Linked DNA regions of Homo sapiens: region 1 is linked to region 2. The links come from fine-mapping of genetic effects on gene expression. Tissue or cell type: whole blood. Region 2 holds a variant in brackets; the other region holds the start of a gene. All regions are shown on one strand. Distances are between the middles of the regions.

Region 1 (2,500 bases), 360 kb before region 2:
ATTTTTTAGTGGAGACGGGGTTTCACCGTGTTAGCCAGGATGGTCTCGGTCTCCTGACCTCGTGATCCGCCTGCCTCGGCCTCCCAAAGTGCTGGGATTACAGGGGTGAGCCACCGCGCCCGGCCACACAATGGCTTTCTTAAATGCTGACCTCTTCCCTTCAACCCAAAGCCAACCATACTGGGCCCCCCACTTCCTGCCAGACCACGCTGCAGTGCTCTGCTCCCTAGTGTCTACACTGCTCCATAGGCCTGCATGATACCCCCCTGGCTCACAAACGGGCATGTGGACGTGATGAGGGTGTGAGTGATCAGCTGCTCCACTGAGTGGTGAGTGATCAGTTCCACCACTTCCCTGTTCCAGAGCAGAGGGAACTAGGTGTCACCCTCAGTTGTTTTCTGCCCTTGTCCTTCAGCTCCTGCTGTCTCAAGCCAGGAACTCTGCTCAGGGAGAGTGGACTGTGCTCAGGCGTGGTTGGCAACGCCACAAGAATCTAGAGAGCCTGGGCGGGAGTGTCCCTCTAGAGCTTAAGATGGGGCAGCTACTCACCGGGGTCCAGGCTGTTGTCGCTGTAGGCATACTCCACCTGCGGCACAGAGCACGGGAAGGGCCCGTCAGACCTCCGCCCCTAGGGGGAGGCGCCCCTTCCACTGCAGGCACGCACAGCGCGCCCCCCATTCCGGGAAGGCGCCTCTGTCACCCTGCGCGCTTGCACACACACAGCCCGGGGTGCGCGGGCAGCTTAATGAGTCCCCCGAGACTGGCACAGGCTAGGGCGTGCGAGTGCCTCCCCTGTGTATGATCCCTTCCGCCCCTACTCCACCCCAGTGCCCCGTTCCCCCGACTCGCGCGCACACGCCTCGTTTGTCTCCCCACCTTGGCACACGCGGGGTGAGAGCTGTCTTCTCTGCAGCCCCGGGGCACGGAGAGCGTGGGGGACTTTGGGGACAGGAGGGAAGCCCCTCGTCTTCCGGCCCCCCTACGTGCACGAGCCCGACCCGCCCTCCCCTCGCCGGCGTGCGCGCCCACGGGGCTTGCCTTGACCCAAGGGTCCTCGGGAGAGGCGCCCGGCTCCGTCATCTTGTACCCACCGGACCGGAAACGGGCCAGCGGGCGGGCCCCCTGCGGCGAGGAAGCGGGTGGCGTGCCCACGTGACCCGCGCCCGCCAATCCGCGACCGAGAGGTGGGGCAGGGCGAAGCATCGCGCATGCGCAGCCCAAAGACTTTACTCCACGGTTCCAGCCGTCAAGGCCCGGCGCTTGGCCTGGCGCCAGCCTCCTTCGAGACTGCTCCCCGCCGTGCCTGCCCTCCCCGGGTTAGGCAGTGGAATGGCGGCGACATGAAGCGCGTTTTGTAAGATGGAGTCCCCTCAATTGGCTTGTCAGCACACCGCCGCAGATAGTGTGTGCACGCGCACTGTCCGGCCGGCCGGCTCCCCACGTTACCCTGAGGGCGGCCTCCCCGCGCTCACCGGACCTGCACTGCTGGCCGGTGTGTCAGGAACCGGGCAGAGAAGCCCCCAGCCACATCGTCCGACCCCACCAGGCTGCAAGCTCTGTGAGGGCAGAGGCCCCGCCTGGCGCGCGGAAGGCTGATCTTCCAACACCCAGCCCAGTGTCTGGCAGGATGCATGTGGAATGAACCCTTGCAAAGAACCTGCTAGCTAGGTTATGCGGCCTCTCATATTAAAAACAAAACAAAAACAATAAAACACGGCAGTACCTAGAAAGTCTACACCTTACTCAGAAGAACACAGCTGGTCAGTGGGAGGGCCAAAGCTCGCCTCTGGCTAGCCTCAAAGGCCATTCTCTTAACCACTGCATTGCCCAGGCTTCCAGCTCAGGCCTGGGCCCTGCACTTGTGGCTTAAGGATCCCAAAGATACTTAGGGGCATTGGAACAGGAAGCAGACACCATACAAGCAACATCTCAGAACATTCACCTTTAATTCTGTTACAGGTTCCAGTATTTGCGCTGGCCCTAGTCAGCTGTGGGTAAGAGTCACCCATGGGCAAGAGTGGGGAGGGGACTGCTCCCCCATGAACCACATCCTCAGTGTTGGCCAAATACCAGCGTGTTGGGTAGGCTTCCTGTGTCCACCAGGCCTGGCCATGTCCTGCACAGTATAGCTTGGACCTCTGGGCCTGAACCAGGGTGAGCATCAAGGCCCCCATTTCTCCTCACCACGGGGTCGCTTGTCAGCTCCAGGAGCCAGTCTGGCCCCACTGAGAACTTTTCAGTCGAGGGCCTGATGAGTCTTGGGAATGCGCTTCTGCAAGAGGGCCCAGGCTTTCTCCACCTTCAGACAGGCCAGGATGTTGGGAGGAAGAGAGGGCAGGGTCAGGCAGTACCCACTGGAGACTCCTTCCCCACAACCCGGCCTTGCCCTGGGCACCAACCTGGCGTTGGGTGATATGCGGCTCCCACAAGGTGCTGAGCACCACGTGGCTCTGTTCCACAAGCTGCTGCCCGCTCATCTGGCTCTGCAGCCGGCTTTGAG
Region 2 (2,757 bases):
CTGTAATCCCAGCTACTCGGGAAGGCTGAGGCAGGAGAATTGCTTGAACCCGAGAGGTGGAAGTTGTGGTGAGCTGAAATCGTGCCATTGCACTCCAGCCTGGGCAACAAGAGTGAAACTCTGTCTCAAAAACAAAAGAAAAGAAAACAAAAAAACAGATACCACACAACATCTCTCATCTAGAGATTAACCTCTATGGATGATTTAGTGACTATTCTTGCACTCTATATATAGATATGTATTATACATTGCATCACCCGTTGCTTGAACTTCCTGTGTGGAGGTTATCTAGCAGCAGAACGAAGACCATAAACAAGGAAACATATTCAGGCCGGGCGCGGTGGCTCATGCCTGTAATCCCAGACTTTTGGGAGGCCGAGGCAGGCATATCACCTGAGGTCAGGAGTTTGAAACCAGCCTGGCCAACATGGTGAAACCCCATCTCTACTAAAAATACAAAAAGTAGTCAGGTGTGGTGGTGGGCGCCTGTAATTCCAGCTACTTGGGAGACTGAGGCAGGAGAATCGCTTGAACCAGGGAGGCAGGAGAATTGCTTGAACCAGGGAGGCAGAAGTTGCAGTGAGCCGAGACTATGCCACTGCATTCCAGTCTGGTGACAGAGCGAGACTCCATCTCAAAAACAAACAAAACACAAATATATTAATTTAGTGATGGGCGCCCTGAAGACAAATAAAGCAAGGTAGAGGGATAGAGAAGTGGCAGGGAGGAGAGTGGAGGTGTTATTTTACTAGAGTGGTCAAGGAGGGTTTCTCTGAGGACATGTTTGTTTTTTTTGTTGTTGTTTTGTTTGTTTGTTTGTTTGAGATGGGGTCTCACTTTGTTGCCCAGGCTGGAGTACATTGCTCACTGCAGTCTCAAACTGCTAGACTCAAGGGATCCTCCCACCTCAGCCTCCCACATAGTTGGGACTACAGGCATGCACCACCAATCCTGGTTAATTATTTTATTTTTATAGATATGGGGTCTTGCTGTGTTTCCCAGACTGGTCTCAAATTCCTGGGCTCAAGCAATGTTCCTTCCTCAGTCCCCCAAGGTTCTGGGATTATAGGCATGAGCCACTCTACCTAGCCAGGATGTGATGTTTGAAAAGACCTGAATGAAGTGAGGAAGCTAGCCATACAAAGATCTAGAGAAAAACATTGTATGCCAAGAGAACAAGTACAAAAATCCTGGGTTGAGAATGGCCATGTCTGGAAAGCCTCAGGAGGGCCAGGGAGGCTGGAGCCTCTTGAGCAGGGAAGATAAGTGGTAGGAACTGAGGTCAGGACACTCCAGCCTTGGAGTTCAGGGTGAAAGGTTGGAGTCTAGACCATATCATATGTAATTTTTTGTGACTTTTTTTTTTT[A/TA]CTTGGAAATATATCCTAGGTAGCTGGGCATGGTGGCTCATGCCTGTAATCCCAACACTTTGGGAGGCCAAGGCAGGTGGATCACTTGAGGTCAGGAGTTTGAGACCAGCCTGGCCAACATGGTGAAACCCCATCTCTACTAAAAAACATACAAAAATTAGCCGGGCATGGTGGCAGGTACCTGTAATCCCACCTACTCAGGAGGCTGAGGCAAGAGAATCACTTGAACCCGGGAGGCGGAGGTTGCAGTGAGCCAAGATCACACCACTGCACTCCAGCCTGGGCAACAGAGCGAGACTCTGCCTCAAAAAAAAGAAATATATCCTATGCAGAGTTACAGCTCAGTAAATGTAATCTTCCAACCTCATTTTGATGACTGCATACAATCCCACTGTATGGTGAGTTACATGTTGGTTATTTAAGATACTTATAATTTGGGCCTGGGCACAGTGGCTCATGCCTGTAATTCCAGCACATTAGAAGGCGGAGGAGGAAGGATTGCTTGAGCCTAGGAGTTTGAGACCAGCCTGGGCAACATAGTGAGACTCCATCTCTACAAAAAAGAAAAAGTTAGCTGCGCTTGGTGGCGCATGCCTGTAGTCCCAGCTACTCAGAAGGCAGAGGCTGGAAGATTGGTTGAGCCCAGGAATTTGAGGCTGCAATGAGCTATGATTGTGCCATTGCACTGTAGCCTATGTGACAGAGTAAGACCCTGTCTCAGAAAAAAATAAAATCCTATTTCTGGCAGCATTTCTTTGTTTTTAACTTCTTAGCCAATCTATAAAATACTCTGTACACTGTAAAGCACAAAAAACATGTTATGAAAAGGTCGCTCCTGACACTTGAAGCCCTAGAAGAAGATTAGGGTAATAAGCAATTGGTGAACCCTGCAGCGTTTCACCCTCTTGGGCTACTTAAATGACAAGCTCCTTGTCCTATAATCATAGTGTGATCGTCCTTGCCTAGTATAATTAACTTTGTACTGATTCCCATATTCACGTACCCAGAAACAAGACTTCATTCTCCCATGTCAGATAATCACATTCTTACCACCTGCTTACCTGGATTTCCATAGTCAGCCTTCTGAAAAGGTAACTGTGGTTGACCAGATCACGTGCAGGTTTATCTGCTCATCTGCCACATCCCAGTGGGGATTCTGTGGGAAGCAAAGGACACATCGCATTCTTGGCACCAACAGCACTCACTGGGACTAGTGACATCAAAGTACCCCAAATGCAGAAACACCAGGCGTGAAGGAGCGTGCAGGTGCTGGGAAAAGTAGCCTTCCCTTTCCTGAAAGACTAGACACTCAGAGTTAGAGGAACCTCAGACATCATCAGATCAGATCAGCGGCTCTCCAGTGCCTAGGCCTTTCCATTAGATCCCTGAC

What was found. PIP is the estimated chance that this variant, and not a neighbour inherited with it, causes the effect.
Region 1: MLX starts here. The variant in region 2 is fine-mapped to the expression of MLX in whole blood (INTERVAL, PIP above 0.99).

The regions. Positions count from the first base shown.
Region 1 is chr17:42,565,705-42,568,204 of GRCh38, reverse strand. It overlaps MLX (MAX dimerization protein MLX), which reads right to left and starts at 1,105. Exons shown (of 8, transcript NM_198204.2): 1 at 1,039-1,105; 2 at 550-586. The coding sequence starts at 1,080. COASY (Coenzyme A synthase) reads right to left here. Exons shown (of 9, transcript NM_025233.7): 8 at 2,400-2,500; 9 at 1,928-2,299. The coding sequence ends at 2,237. RefSeq lists enhancers at 354-443, 319-826, 1,584-1,633, 1,840-2,346, 2,347-2,500 and a silencer at 844-1,243.
Region 2 is chr17:42,203,962-42,206,718 of GRCh38, reverse strand. All of the region lies in intron 16 of STAT5B (signal transducer and activator of transcription 5B), which reads left to right. Among named protein-coding and RNA genes, the nearest start is that of GHDC, 11 kb to the right of the region's middle. The variant A/TA (reference allele first, on the strand shown) is at 1,368.